Linked DNA regions of Homo sapiens: region 1 is linked to region 2. A link means that fine-mapping ties the variant in region 2 to the expression of a gene that starts in the linked region. Tissue or cell type: whole blood. Region 2 holds a variant in brackets; the other region holds the start of a gene. All regions are shown on one strand. Distances are from middle to middle.

Evidence for each region. PIP is the estimated chance that this variant, and not a neighbour inherited with it, causes the effect.
Region 1: it holds the start of USB1, and the variant in region 2 is fine-mapped to the expression of USB1 in whole blood (TOPMed, PIP above 0.99).

What each region holds. Positions count from the first base shown.
Region 1 is chr16:57,997,611-58,005,610 of GRCh38, reverse strand. USB1 (U6 snRNA biogenesis phosphodiesterase 1) reads right to left here and starts at 4,204. Exons shown (of 7, transcript NM_024598.4): 1 at 4,030-4,204; 2 at 2,966-3,132. The coding sequence starts at 4,127. ZNF319 (zinc finger protein 319) reads left to right here and starts at 4,939. Exons shown (of 2, transcript NM_020807.3): 1 at 4,939-6,118; 2 at 7,089-8,000. The coding sequence starts at 7,346. RefSeq lists enhancers at 3,966-4,065, 4,092-4,386, 4,559-4,728, 5,586-5,855 and silencers at 4,146-4,395, 4,686-5,285, 5,336-5,465.
Region 2 is chr16:57,890,316-57,898,315 of GRCh38, reverse strand. It overlaps CNGB1 (cyclic nucleotide gated channel subunit beta 1), which reads left to right. Exons shown (of 33, transcript NM_001297.5): 30 at 402-520; 31 at 773-919. Among named protein-coding and RNA genes, the nearest start is that of CNGB1, 77 kb to the left of the region's middle. The variant G/T (reference allele first, on the strand shown) is at 4,466.

The DNA.
Region 1 (8,000 bases), 110 kb before region 2:
AATCATTAGTTTGTAGCAATTACTCTTTATTCCAATATATAATAATCCTCGCTCTATAATCATAACCTAGGAAAAACCAGGCCATACAGAGATAGGAGCTGAGGGGACATAGTGAGAAGTGACCAGAAGACAAGAGTGCGAGCCCTCTGTCATGCCCGGACAGGGCCACCAGAGGGCTCCTTGGTCTAGCAGTAATGCCAGCGTCTGGGAAGATGCCCATTGCCAAGTGGACCGTGGTCTAACGGTAGCGTCAGTGCCAAGGGAAAACACCCGCTACTTAGCAGACCGGGAAAGGGAGTCTCCCTTTCCCCAGGGGAGTTTAGAGAAGACTCTGCTCCTCCACCTCTTGTGGAGGGCCTAACATCAGTTAGGCCCGCCCGCAGTTATCTGGAGGCCTAACCATCTCCCTGTGATGCTGTGCTTCAGTGGTCATGCTCCTAGTCTGCCTTCACACCTGTACACCTGGCTCTGCCTTTTAGCTAGCAGTAGCAAAATTAGTGAAAGTACTAAAAGTCTCTGATATGCAGAAATAATGGTGTAAGCTGTCCTCTCTCTCTCCCTCTCTCTCTCTGCCTCAGCTGCCAGGCAGGCAAGGGCCCCCGTCCAAGTGGCGTGACTCACGTAACCTTGTCAATCATTGGAGATGGCTCACACTCCTTACCCTGACCCTTTGTCTTGTATCCAATAAATATCAGCGCAGCCTGGCATTCGAGGCCACTACCGGTCTCCGCGTCTTGGTAGTAGTGGTCCCCCGGGCCCAGCTGTCTTTTCTCTTATCTCTTTGTCTTGTGTCTTTATTTCTACAATCTCTCGTCTCCGCACACAGGGAGAAAACCCACCGACCCAGTGGGGCTGGACCCTACAAGATATTCTATGTTTATAGACAGAAAGATTCAATATTGTAAAGATGTCAGTTCTTCCCAATTTGATCTACAGATTCAATACAATCCCAGTCAAAATCTCAGCAAGTTATTTTGTGATACTGACAAACGGATTCTAAGGTGTACATGGAGAGGTAAAAAACCAAAACAGGCCAAGTGCTGTGGCTCATCCCTGTAATCCAAGCACTTTGGGAGGCTGAGGCCAGAGGATTGCTTGAGCCCAGGAATTCAAGACCAGCTTGGGCAATATAGTGAGACCCTATCTCTAAAAAAAACCAAAAAAAGCCCCCAAAAAACCCAGAATAGTCAACACACTACTGAAGGAGAAGAACAAAGTTGGAGGACTGAAACTACCCAACTTCGAGACTTAACTATGTAAAGTTACAGCAATCAAAACAGTTCACCAATGGTATTGGTGAACAAATAGATGAATGGAACAGAATTGAGAACCCAGAAATAGACCCACATCAATACAGTCAACCGATCTTTGGCAAAGGAGCAAAAGCAATACAATGTGAAAAAGAGAGTCTTTTCAACCAATGGTGCTGGAATAACTGGATATCCATATATAAGAAAAGGAATCTAGACACAGACCTTCCACCTTTCACAAAAATTAACTCAAAATGGACACAGAACTAAATGTAAAATGCAAAACTGTAAGATTCCTGAAAGATAACATAGGAGAAAAATGTAGATGATCTTGGGTTTGGTGACAACTTTTTAGATATGACACCAAAGGCAAGATCCATGAAAGAAATAATTGATAAGCTGGACTTCATTAAACTTAAAAACTTCTGCTCTGTGAAGGACAACGTCAAGAGAATGAAAAGACAAGCGACTGGCTGGGAAAAAAATGTATTTGCAAAAGACGTATCTGATAAAGGACTATTATTTCAAATATAAAGAACTCTTAAAACTCAATATTTTAAGATCCAATATTAGACCCACATCATAATATTAAATAAACAAAAATGATTAAAATTTATTAATAAACAAAAATGATTAATATTAATAAACAAAAATGATTAAAAAGTGGGCAAAAGACCTTAACAGACACCTCACTGAGGAAGATACACAGATGGCAAAAAGCATTGAAAAGATGATCTGGATCATATGTCATCAGGGAAATGCAAATTAACAGACAACAGTGACATATTGCTACACACCTATTAGAATGGCTAAACTCCAGAACACTGTCAATACCAAATGCAACTCCTTTGGGCAAAAACCAAGGAATGTAATTGCTGGATTTTATGATAAGAGTATGTTTAGTTTTGTAAGAAGCCACCAAACTGTCTTATTTGAGATGGAGTCTCACTCTGTCACCCAGGCTGGAGTGCAGTGGAGCGATCTTGGCACACCACAGTCTCTACCTCCCAGGGTCAGTCAATCCGCCTACCTCAGCCTCTCAAGTAGTGGGAACCATAGGCGTGTGCCACCACACCTGGCTAATTTTTTTGTATTTTTGGTAGAAACAGGGTTTCTACCTGTTGCCGAGGCTGGTCTCAAACACCTGGGCTCAAGTGATCTGCCTGCCTCCGCTTCCCAAAGTGCTGGGACTATAGGTGTGAGCCACCTGGCCTAGCCAGTGCTACCCCCATTTTAGATTTGAAGAAACTGAAGCTCTGAGAAGTCTAGTATCTTATAAAGGGCACCCAGAGTAGTGGGCAGCGGAGTGAGGTCTGACTCTGAAGCCTGGGCATTTTTTGTCTTCCACCTGCTGATCAGAGCTAGGGTGGGATTTGAACCTTGCACACCCAGCGTACCCAGGGCCCTCTCAGAAATAAAGTGCCTGGCATGACCTTGACACCCTGCTCCAGATTCTCCTTTGGTCACCTCCTCGTGAACAGGGAGAATATTATACCCAGAGGTAATACACATTTTAGGCTACGAATTCAAAACCAAGATGACAGAAAAATCCCCAGTTCTTGAAACCTGCTCTTTCTCTGCTAAGTCAATGACTTTCCCACCACCAGTGTTAGAGGTTTCTGGTTTCTTCCTTCTAGTTGGGGCCAGATTCTGCCCTTCATGAGGCACCTACGGGTCTATGGGTCTTGGCAACTTGCCTTTCACACATCACTCACATGGTACATAGACGTGGGTGGCCCAGTTGCCTCGCTCGTGGGGGAAGGTGCGCACCCGTCCCCCGTGTTTTGTGCTGTCATCTTCAGGCCCCTCCTCGGTGCCCGGGAACATGTTCAGCACACTGTCAGGTACTGGAAATCTCTGCCTGGGAAGGGGGCTCTGGCCACTGCAAAAGAAAAAAAGAAAAATGAGTACATTTATCCTGTTAGCATTCTCTACCTTTGTATATACCACAAAAGTTGTAACCCCTTATATATGGTGGCTCTGAGTGTGTGTTTCCAGCCTGGTGCTGGAAGCAGCTTCTAGATAGCGAAATTGTTTCTCCAGTATTGTCTCATTGGGGTCTCCAACTCTGGGGCACAAGGTCCCCATGGGAAACAACAGGGCATGCAACAATGTGGTTCAGGGGTCACATTTCCAAGCTGGACAGGCTGCAGCTGGAGTAGCACTTTCTAGCTCTATGACCTTGGGCAAGTCATGTCCCCTTTCTGGGCCTCAAATGCCTCATCTGAAAGTATATGTCTACCTGATAGAGCAATTGTGGGATCAACTGAGCTACTGCTTGTAAAGCACTCAGCAAAGATAAGGCCTAGCATTTAAGAATCTAAGCCCCAGGAAGTAAGGCCGACGGTTTTGTTCACCACTGAATTACCAGACCCCAGCCTGGCAGGGAGTGGGTGCTCAGTGAATATTTACTGGATGAATGAAAAGGCTCTCCCTACGCTTTAGCAAGTATTACTATCGCAATTGTATTCAAATCAGGAAACGGACCTAGGATGGTACAGGGATGTGTGCCAGGCGATAGAGTGGGCCAGCGCGAGGCTGGACCCGAACCCAGGTCTGGCCTCCCAACTTGGCCCTAGCCAGGTGGGGCCACTCTGGAGCTTTGTCTGGGGTGGGGGGGAGGGGTATATCTTCTGGATCCTCCTTTCTTCCTGCGTCCCCTTTTCCTTCCCAGAGCCGCCCCGCATCCTCCCTCCCCACTCCACCCCCAGACATTCGGGTCCCGTCTGGCTCTAGGGTGAATGCGCGCGCCCTCCGGAGAGACTTCCTCACTCCTCACCGACGGTGGCTCCCATCCCCCGGCCTGGTCCGCATCCCGTCCTCGGACTCATCCTCGGAGCCGCTGCTGCTGTAGCCCACCAGGGGCGCCGCGCTCATGGGGCCTCATCCAAGACCACCAGAGCAGGTCCACCAGCAACCTCAACCGGCACCCGGAGTTCCGCTGTGCCGGAAGCGCCCTCCCAGGGGCGGGGCCTGGGCTGGCACCGCCTCGGGGCGGAGCCGGGAGGGGCGGAACCCGGCAGGACAGTGGTGAAGATTCAGCCCACCGACTCCAAGCTGTCTGCCGGCTGCGCACGCGGATCTGGTCACCTGCAGCCTCCCGGCACCCCGCTGGGACCTCCCCAGCCTTCGTGTACCCATTTCATATATCGCTCAGGGCCCTCACCTTTCTGCCCGCTGCTGTCTGCAGCCACCCGGGACCAGACATACCAGACACGACAGTCCCGGGTCAGCGCACTAGACCCAGCGGAGACCCCTGCCTGCCCCGAGCCCGGCCAGGATCAGAGGTCCTGGAGCCCCCTCCTCAAACCAGCCCAAAGTCCAAGCCCCTAAAAGCCAAGCTGAGCAGTTAGGGGCGGATCAATTGTGGCAGACCAGAGCCTCTAGGAGGCCCCTCCTCTCCTGCGCAGAGCCGGGCCGAGGGCGGTCACCCGGAGCCCCCTCCCCTAAGCCCGAGCGGGGTGGCCGGAAGCAGAGCGCCCTTCCTCGGTTAGTCGAGGCGCCCAGGCCTGGCGACTCGAAAACCGCCCGGAGCACCCGGCTTGTCCGACCTGGCCCGGCCACGGGGTCCCCGGCAGGGGGCGGCCTCGCTCCGCGCCGCCCGCTCCTCCCGCATTGGCCGCCGCCGCCCGGGATGCCGCTCCTCCCCCGGCCCCGCCTCCCTGGCCCCCGCGCCGCCCGCCCGTCCGCCCGTCTCCGCAAGGCCATCGGTCCGTCCGCCCGCCCTCCCGGCGCTCCTCGCCCCGGCCCCGCTACTCCGGCAGCGCGCGTCGCTTCCTCCGTTCCGGCCGCCGCTAGCCCGTCCCCCGCCCCCGGTCCGGCCGCAGCCGCTACGCGAGGCCGGGGATTGGCAGCGCGCGTAGGCCGCGCCGCCGCGGATGGAGCCGGAATAAAGGGGCGGCCGAGAGAGCAGCTGGTCGCCGCTCGCCCCGCGCCTGCCCTGCAGGCGGCCTGGAGCAGGTGAGCGGCGGGGCGCCCGGGGCCGCATCTGGGGGCCACCCCCGCGCCCGCCGCACCCCTTCCTCTGCCGGCCCGGCCGCCCCCCCGCGCCCCTCCGCCGCGACCTAGCGGCCTCTTGAGCTTCTGGGCGGCCCAGGCCGGGCCTCGAGGCGCAGCCGCTTCCTGGGCCCGGCCTGTAGCCCTGGGGCCTTTCTCCAGCCCGGCCGCCCTCGGGGCTCGCCCTCGGGTCGCAGCGGCCGGGCCATCCCGGACGAGGGCTGACAGGACGCAGCCCAGCTGGGCCTGCAGGCAGGGCCGGCGGGAGGTGATCGGCTTTCATTCGGTTTCTCAGGGAGGAAGAAGAGACGGGGTGGGGCGCAGGTGGGGGGCCTCCCCTGCCTCTCCTTGCCTCCTCTCTCCCCTTTGCGGAGTGATCACAGAGGCTTCCTGGCTGCACCTTGCTGCAGGAGGGCCAGGGTGGGCAGGGGGTGCTGCAGACCAAGCCAGGGGACACTGTCTGACAGCCATTCATGCCAGAAAAAGCAAACAAAACAGTGGGTTGGCACAGCGGACCTACAGGCGCTCAGAGAAGCCCACCTTCCCCCTCTCTGTCCCGAGAAGGCTTAGAGTGGTACCTGCTTGCTCAAGCAACCTGCTGCCTCCACCCAGAGCAGCCGCTCCTCTCCTCCCTCCCTTCCGGAAGATGCTGAGGATGACAGCTTTTAGCCTGACTCTTACATTTCTTTGGCAGAGCAGTTAGAGGCCAGACTGTCCTGTGAAGGCTTCTCCTTCCTTCTTCCTCTGCTCAGGAGAAAACTTACAAACTTTTAAATGTAAGAGGCAGATGAGCTGGGAACCTGGAAGTGGGTTGCATCTGACTCTGAAAGTTCCTCCCTCTCGCTGGCATTACCTCATGCTGCCACAAAGTGGTGAGTTAGAGATTTGCCTGGGCTGGGTGGGCTTTACCTTCCAACAATTACCCAGAACTTTATAGGCTTGGAGTAAGGGAATGGAGTTGTCTCTAGAGAGGTGATGAGAAATGCTCTGTGGTTAGCATGCTGCATCCTGCATTGCCAAGGCAGACCAGGGCAGTTTCTTACATTTTCCTGCAGGCCTTGACACTATGAGATTCAGAGGATTTAGGACTTTGTGTGTGTGTGTGTGTGTGTGTGTGTGTGTGTGAGTTCTGGGAGAGAACCAGAGTGAGGAAGTTCTGCTGTGTGGACATCAAGCCTGGGTGGTTCTGTGGCCCTCTCATCTAGCCCCCATCACCTATGGGCTCTGGTTCCTGTAGGGCCACCCATCCTGTCACGCGGAGAGAGAATGGGCCTGTGGTCAGGGATAGTTGAAGGGGTGTGGTCAGTCCCTCATAGGTGAGAGTTTTTGAAATGGTCCTTGGTTCCACGTAGTTGTCCTAAATATTGACTGTCAGAGGCCATTTGCCACTGGGCTCTCAGACCTGGGAGGTCTGGCCTCCTTAGCTCTAAGTGGTGTGGCCCGTATTAAGACTCAGGGTAGCAACAGGAGAGGAGCTGCGGGCCTTAAGGAGGATTCTGTATTGTAGGCAGATAACCCCGGACTCTCACCTGTGAGTCTCAGCTAAAGGGTTGGCAGGAAGCTGGAGGGGACTTGTGGAGGCTGGGATGTCCTGGCCCAGGGGCGGGGCACTGAGGTGGGTGGGGGTGGAGGCCGCTGCCATTTCCTCTGCCTGGAGGAGCTGAGCTGGCTGCAGACCTCTCTGATTGCCTAAGAAGGGAGGAGTCCTGCAGCCCTGAGCACCTCTGCCTTCCCCGATGTGTGGTTTGTGATGGTGTGGTGAGTGCGGGCAGGACAGGGAGAAGGCCCAGGAAACTGCTGCTTGTTCCTTCCTCGAGCTCATACTTTCTCTCTTCTCTACAGAACGGATCACTGGGGAAGGCAGAGTCTCCCCGGCACTGCTGGGACCCTCCCTTGAAGAGCCCCCATGTCCTGTAGGCAGAGCCTTGTAGTCTGTCCGCTTGGTTACTGACTCGGGCTGTCTGACCAGCCCCTCTTCTGTGCCTTGTCTGAGGTCCTTGTCCATCTCTGTGATTGGGCAGCTTCTCTCTCTGGATTGGGTCACGTGAAGCGGGAAACTGAAGCCATTACTCTCCAAACCCTGTTTCATCTTCCCAAGCATGTCGGAAAGCTGGCAACAGCCGCCACAGACGCAGCCGCAGCAGCCACAGCCACCGCAGCCTCAGCACCATGCAGAGCCACCGCCAGCCCTGGCAGAGCACACGCTGCCTCCGGGCACGGCGGAGAACCCCCTGGGCTGTGCCGTCTATGGCATCCTCCTGCAGCCAGACCCCGGCCTGCAGCCCCCACAACACGCACCCCTGCAGGCAGCAGGAGAGCCAGGCCCCAAATGTGGCGTGTGTGGTCACGACCTGGCGCACCTGTCCAGTCCGCATGAGCACCAGTGTCTGGCGGGCCATGACCGCTCATTCCAGTGCACACAGTGTCTCAAGATCTTCCACCAGGCCACTGACCTGCTGGAGCACCAGTGCGTGCAGGCTGAGCAGAAGCCCTTCGTCTGTGGGGTCTGCAAGATGGGCTTCTCACTACTCACCTCACTGGCACAGCACCACAGCTCCCACAGTGGCCTGGTGAAGTGTTCCATCTGTGAAAAGACCTACAAGCCAGCTGAGGCAGCGGAGCCAGCCACCACAGCCGCCCCGTCGCTTCCCGCAGCACCCGCGCCTTCCACTGTCACCCCTGCTGAACAGGCCGACAAGCCCTACAGCTGCCCCATCTGCCAAAAGCCCTTCAAGCACCTGTCGGAGCTCTCTC
Region 2 (8,000 bases):
TGAGATGTGCCAGGTGTAGACATCATTTGATGGTGGGAGCTGCTATCTGATTTGCCCTGCCTCCATCAGTGAGTCTAACTGGAATTTGCAGAATTCCATTATACCTGCACCTCCCAGGTTAGCTGGCACTTCCCATTCCATGACATCACTAACTCCCCCACTGCAACCCTGTCAGTTATGGAGGGCATGGGGTAGTCACTCCTCCAAGTCTACAGATGGGGTGACTGAGGCCTGAGAGGGAAGTGACTGCCCCCACACGACACCCCAAGTTGTGGTGGCAGGGCTGGACCCCAGTGCCTAGGTTCCTCCTTGCCGGACCTCCAGCCTCTGGATCCAGCCCTGGCTGCTTCTCTGGTGACTTTGGGGGATGAACAGAGGGACTTGTCACTTCTTTGTTTCAGGGGGAGATCGGCCGTGAGATGTACATCATCCAGGCAGGGCAAGTGCAGGTCTTGGGCGGCCCTGATGGGAAATCTGTGCTGGTGACGCTGAAAGCTGGATCTGTGTTTGGAGAAATAAGGTCAGACGCAGCTGGGGTAAAGTGAGGGGCCTGGGGCAAGGGCTGGGAAAGAAGGCGGCCAGCGGGCAGTGCGAGTGTCTACGGCTTGGTAGATGCAGCACTGGCACCTGCTGATGTATGCGGGGATGGGGGCGGGGGAAGGTTCTCATCTGTGTGGGGCCACCACTGTCCTCCACACATGGGAAATGAAGATCTGAATGTGACCGAAACGGCAGTCTCTGAAGGGCCTCCTTCCTCCCTTCTCTGCCCCAGCTTGCTGGCTGTTGGGGGCGGGAACCGGCGCACGGCCAACGTGGTGGCGCACGGGTTTACCAACCTCTTCATCCTGGATAAGAAGGACCTGAATGAGATTTTGGTGCATTATCCTGAGTCTCAGAAGTTACTCCGGAAGAAAGCCAGGTATGTAACTTTTCTTTCGTTTAATAAAAAATTGCTAAGGACAATGAATTTCTCTTACATAACCACAGTACCTTTATCTTTTTTTTTTTTTTTTTGAGATGACATCTTGCTCTGTCACCCAGTCTGGAGTGCAGTGGAGTGATCATGACTCACTACAGTCTCAACCTCCTAGGTTCAAGTGATCCTCCTGCCTCAGCCTCCCATGTAGCTGGGACTATAGGCACGTACCACCATTCCCAGCTAATTTTTAAAATTTTTTTCTAGAGCTGGGGTCTCACTATGTTGCCTAGGCTGGTATCAAACTCCTGGGCTCACATGATCTGCTCTGACCTCCCAAAGTGCTGGGGTTACAGGTGTGAGCCACTGCGCCTGGCCTAGTACCTTCATTAAAATAAGGAAATTTCGTATTGAAACAACACTATTATCTCATTCACAATCCATCTTCAGATTTTGCTAATTCTTTAAGAGTATCCTTTGTACCTTTTCTTCTTTTCCATTCCTGAATCAGGTCTAGGATCACATATTGTAATTAAGGTGCAGAGTATTCTTAGTCTTCCTTGATCTGGGATAGTTCCTCAGGCTTTTCCAACCTTTAGTGACTTGGACTTCTTTTAAGCATATAGGCCAGTTATTTTATTTATTTATTTATTTATTTATTTATTTATTTATTTATTTATTTATTTTGAGACAGAGTCTTGCTCTGTCGCCCAGGCTGGAGTGCCGTGGCACAATCTTGGCTCACTGCAACCTCTGCCTCCTGGATTCAAGCAATTCTCCTGCCTCAGCCTCCTGAGTAGCTGGGATTACAGGTGCACACCACCACGCCCGGCTAATTTTTGTATTTTTAGTAGAGACGGGGTTTCACCATGTTGGTCAGGCTGGTCTCAAACTCCTGACATCGTGATCCACCCCCCTCGGCCTCCCAAAGTGCTGGGATTACAGGCGTGAGCCATTGCACCCAGCCCATACAGGCCAGTTATTTTACAGAATGCCCCTCAGTTGGGGTTTGTCTGATGTTTTCTCGTGATTACCATTAGAGTGTGCATTTTTGGCAGGAAGAACTCAGAAGTGAGTCGCTTCTGCAGCAAATGTATCGAGAGGCGCACGATGCCATTTACTCCCAATATCGATGATTTTTACTTTGATTACTTGGTTAAGGTTTCTGTATTGTAAACCTATTTTCCCTTAAACCTAATTCCTAAGTAATTAGTGGGTAGTCACCTTCAGACTATGAGGATATCCTGTTCCCTGTCAAACTTTTACCCACTGCTTTTAGCATCCTTTGATGGTTCCTCCCTATGATAGTTACAAAGAGATTGCTATGATAGTTGTAAAATGGAAATTTTGTAACTCCACTCCCTCCTTGATTATTAGCTGGCAGTCAGCTGTGTGGAAGAGCTTTCTCTTCTCTCCCATTTGTTTATTCATTTCTCAATGTATATAGGCATGGATTTACTTGATTCCATGAATACTCTGTTAACAATCATTATTTTGATGCTCAAATTAGTCCAGTTTGGCCAGTGGGCACTTTTTCAAGGTGGCTCATTTGTGACCTTCGTGATATCCCTGTCATATTTTAGCACTTCCTTGCTTACTCAAGGAGCAGTAAGCCACAACCAGATGCCCTGGTTCATCTTGTACTTCCCTTGCAGTATCCTGGAAATGGCCATTTCTCCAAGGAGCCTTGATTCCTTTTACTGGGGGATGGTTTTTAGAAACCACGATCTGAGTCCTAGGAGCAGTCATTGCTACTGGAGTGCTACTAGGCCTCTGCAGCAGACAGAACCAAGAAACACACCCACATACACACCAAGATGTATAAGTACAAATATATATATATATATAAAAAATACATATATAATATATTATGTATATATAAAATACATACACACACATATACATGTATATGCCAACTTAAATTTTTCTGTCTATTCTACTGATTATCTATAAAACAATTTCAATCCAGCACCACAGAATTCATTCTTTTTTTTTTTGAGACGGAGTTTCACTCTTGTCACCCAGGCTGGAGTGCAGTGGCGCCATCTCAGCTCACTGCAACCTCTGCTGGAATTACAGGCATGTGCCACCACACCTGGCTAATTTTTGTATTTTCAGCAGAGATGGGGTTTCACCATGTTGGCTAGACTGGTCTCAAACTCCTGACCTCAGGTGATCTGCCTGCCTTGGCTTCCCAGAGTTGCTGGGATTACAGGTGTGAGCCACCGTGCCCTGCCACCACATATTAGAATTCATTCTAATATTCTCCCTTTTCATACTTGTAAATCTCTTCTCCAACACTGAGCAATACAGGGAAGTTCATTTCAGAATTTCCAGCCCATGTCACTGTAAAAACAAAAAGTAAGGCTTCTAGGTAGAGTTCAGTACTGGATGCAGTTCTTTTGTGTTTAGCCCGAGTATATATGATGGAAGTGTTACGTTCAAAGTTATCTGGAGTCGTTCTCTTCCTCCACTACCCTTTAATGTGGTTACTTTATTCATTTGAAATACAGGTAGGTTCACTTGTTTCAGTTTACATTCCATTTAGGGCTCCTGCCACCCTGATCTTTGTTGACTTTTTCTTGTTTTCAGTATGTAGAACATTAACATGTTCCTGAAGGTCAACACTCTGCAAAATGGGGCACTCAGAAAAGCGTCCCAACTCTCCCTGTCCCCATTGCCCCCTGACTGCAACTCCCATTATTACGTGGCTCGTTGCATCAATTTCTGCCTTTTCTTTCCTCTGCTTACTTTTGCGAAAATGGACAAGTCCACAGACATTTTCTTTTTTTCTTTTTTGAGATGAAGTCTCATTCTGTAGCCTGGGCTGGAGTGCAGTGGTTAGGTCTTGGCTCACTGCAACCTCCACCTCCCGGGTTCAGGTGATTCTCCTGCCTCAGCCTCCTGAGTAGCTGGGATTACAGGCATCTGCCACCATTCCCAGCTAATTTTTGTATTTTTAGTAGAGATGGGGCTTTGCCACGTTGGCCAGGCTTGTCTCGAACTTCTCACCTCAGGTGATCTGCCCGCTTCTGCCTCCCAAAATTCTGGGATTACAGGTGTGAGCCACCACACCCAGCCCAAACATTTTCTTATTTCTTCTTCTTTCTTACACAAAATATGGCATGCTGTAGATTCTTGTACTTTGCTTTGTTTCCACATGACGACAAAACCCGGAAATCATTGTCTATCAGTGCAGAGTCAGCTTCCTCATTCCTTTCCACAGTGGCAGAACATTCCTGTAAATGGACATTTAGGGTATTTCCACAATTTTGCAATTACAAACAGTGGTGCAACGAATAACCGTGTGCATCCGTATTTTGCATTGTTGGGGAACAGGTCATTCTTTTTAGAAAAGCCGGTTTTTGTTTTCAAACCCTTAAGATCAGGTTTCAAATTGAGCGACAGGCAACGTAGTGTGTCAGGAACCCCACAATAGGTCTGGGAGGCTGGCGGGGCTCAGATCCCTTCCATGTGAGGTGCTGGCTGTGTGACTTTGAGGAAGTTGTTTAACTTTTCTGGTCTCAGTTGTCTCCTATGTAAAATAAA[G/T]GTCATAACCCCTACTTTGCTGCTGTAAATTTTTTTTGTTTTTTTGAGATGGAGTCTTGCTTTGTCGCCAAGGCTGGAGTGCAGTGGCGCAATCCTGGCTCACTGTAACCTCTGCCTCCTGGGTTCAAACAATTCGATTCTCCTGCCTCAGCCACCCCAATAGCTGGGACTACTGCAGGCACATGCCACCACACCCGGCTAATTTTTGTATTTTAAGTAGAGACGGGGTTTCACCATGTTGACCAGGCTGGTCTGGGACTTCTGACCTCAGGCGATCTGCCCGCCTTGGCCTCCCAAAGTGCTGGGATTACAGGTGTGAGCCACTGTGCCTGGCCTGCTGCTGTGAAAATTAAATAGTGTGCAGGAATGTCTCCGGTGGGGTGCCTGTCATACAAGAGAGCTCAGTGCATGTTAATAAGGATCACTTCAGGCCGGGCGCAATGCTGCATGATTGTAATCCCAGCACTTTAGGAGGCTGAGGCGGGAGGATCATTTCAGCCCAAATATTTAAGGTTACAGTGAGTTATGATCGTGCCACTGCACTCCAGCCTGGGTGACAGAGCAAGACCCTGTCTCTCAGATAAATAAGCAATTGTTCCTCTGTAGCCATCAAATTCACCCTATAATTTTTCAGTTGGGTAAAACCTTTTTAATCCACATATCTGGGTTTTCCTCCTTGTCTTGTATCACACATTCTTATTTTCCCCTTCATTCTATACAATGACACCATAAATAAACTGCACAGAGAGCTGTCATAATAGAGGGAAGAAACTCACCAGCATCCATTCCTACAGCACAGTGATGTATCGAGTACACAGTGCTGAGTTCTGGGGACACAGGAGGGACCAAACAAAACTCACATTCTAGTCAGGGAACCGGCAATGGAAAGATGAGCGATGATGTGATGCGTCTGGCTACGAGGAAACACAAAGCCACGGGAGGAGCGGGAAGTGACGGAGAGCTGTCTGAGATAAGCTGGTTGGGGAAGCTGCTCTGAGCAGGTGGCATTTCAACGAGACCTGCACAAAGCAAAGGAGTGAGCTGGGGGACTGATGGCTGGGTACAGCATTCTGGGAAGAGGGAACAGCATGTGCAGAGGCCCTGGGGAGGAGCAGGCTTAGTGTGTGGGTGGCACAACAGCAAGAAAATTAGCATAGCTTGGTATGGGATCAGAGGAGTCTAGGGGAAGAGATTGGGTCAGACCTCAGAGGAAGATGGGAGCCATGGAGAGTTTTACACAGAGGAGTGACTTGAAGTGCCTTAGGTTTTCACAGGAGCCCTTTGGCAGCTTCGAGGTAAAAGGATGTAGTGTTGATGTCCAAGCATCATGCACACAAGACACTGAGGTCCCCTGGGGAAGGAAGCTGCCCCCAAACTCACCTTACCTGGTTGCTCTCAAGGGACCCACTGGACCCTTCCAAAACCCAGTCTATCTGAATTTCTCCCAGAAAATCTCCCCACGTTCCCCACCACATCAGTGGTGCGTGCCAGTGCCTCCTCTCCCCAGGGACAGGGAGGTAGAGTGGACCCTTGTGATTCATGGACTCCATATTTGCAAATTCGCCTCCTCACTGAAATGGACTTGCAACGCCAAGATCAATACTAACAGGCTTTTGTGGTCATTCAAGGACATGCCCAGAGCAGCAAAATACTTGAGTCACCCCAAGTGCACGCTCCCCGCTGAAGTCCCTGTTCTGTCTTGTGGTTTTAGCTCTTGTACTGCGAAGAGGTGTCTTTTTATGGTCCATTTAATGCTACTCTTTTTTTTTTTTTTTTTTGCATTTTTGTGCTTTTTGTTGGCGATTGCACTGTTTAAAATGGCCCCCCAGCATAGTGCTGAAGTGCCGTCTCATGTTCCTAAGCACAAGAAGTCTGCAATGTGCCTTACACAGAAAATATGTGTTAGATAAGCTTCATTCAGGCATGAATTACAGTGCTGTTGGCTGTGCGTTCAATGTTAATAAAACAATAATCTATATTTAATAAGATGTCTTTAGCCGGCACAGTGGCTCATGCCTGTAATCCCAGCACTTTGGGAGGCTGAGGTGGGTGGATCACCTGAGGTCAGGAGTTCAGGATCAGCCTGGCCAACATGGTGAAACCCCATCTCTACTAAAAATACAAAAATTAGCCAGGCGTGGTCATGGGCACCTATCATCCCAGCTACCCGGGAGGCTGAGGCAGGAGAATGGCTTGACCCTGGGAGGCAGAGGTTGCAGTGAGCCAAGATCACACCACTGTAATGCAGCCTGGGCAACAAAGTGAGACTCTGTCTCAAAATAATAATAATAATAATGTCTTTAAAAAGAAACACACATAAGACAAGTTTATTATTATTAATTTTAGAGACAGGGTCGTGCTCTTTCACCCAGGCTGGAGTGCAGTGACACGATCATAGCTCACTGCAGCCTCGAACTCCTGGGCTCAAGAAATCTCCCGCCTTGGCCTCCCAGTGTTCTGGGACTGTGTGTGAACCACCACGCCTGGCCAAGTTCATGTATTATGGTTGATGAATGTTGTGATGGGAGATTTGTAGGAATCTAGCCTTGTATTTCCCCTAGGAACAATGTTTCCATTTTTGCTAATTCAGTGTCCGCAGAGATCTTATAGGACATAATTACTACAAATCATGAGATTCAACTGCTTATGACTGAAAACTGGTACCAGGTCTCCCCACCCTCTCTTCTTGCCCCCACCCCCACCAGGAGGAGCAAAGCTCAGGAAAGCCATGCTTTTAGCTGTTACCCATCCTGCTGGGTGGGTTAGGCAAGAGTTTGGCAAATCAGATGGGACCCCAAAGGCACCTCCCAAGAGCTGTGCAGAGGCCCCCATTCCTGACAGTGCCTGTGCACCTGTGTCCACACTGAGAAGGCTGAGGTGTGGGTGGGAGGCAGCCAGGCGAAGGAATGGGGCTAACAGGCCTCACAGCAACATGGGGGGGCGTGGGAATGGGGGTCTCAGCCATGAGTCATCAGAGTGGTTGTTTGCTGGCCAGGCCAGCTTGACCAGAGAGGCAGGGGATTGTGTATGAGCTCTGCTCATCAGGGGAGATACACTGTCTGAGAACCATAGTCCCGGGGACATCTGAGTTGGTGAGGGCCACGTGTGGGATTCTGTCCAAGCTCCCTGCTTTGCAGATGGGGGACCTGGGTCCCCAAAGAAGTGAAGTGCTGAGATCTCCGGCTTGACCACTCCAAAAAAGAGGATGAAGAGGTCTTATGTGGGTCACTTGCTCCAGGCTGATTGCTCAATCTCAGTTACAGGGAAGCATACATCATCAGAAAATGAGGACAAATTTCCCTAATCTGGAAATGCCCCAGAAGCTAGCTCAATGTTTCCAAACAGAGACAGCTAGTAGCAATCAGCAAAGGTCCTATACATAGTTATTTTGTTAGAAAGAAAAAGATAGTTCATTTTCACAGCACCCTCAGCCTTCCTGTGGGCTGTCACATCATGAATTATGGACTCAAATAACATGGGGGACAGTGCCGAGCTGGCGCGTGTCAGAGGCGTCTGGTGAATTATCATGTTTGTG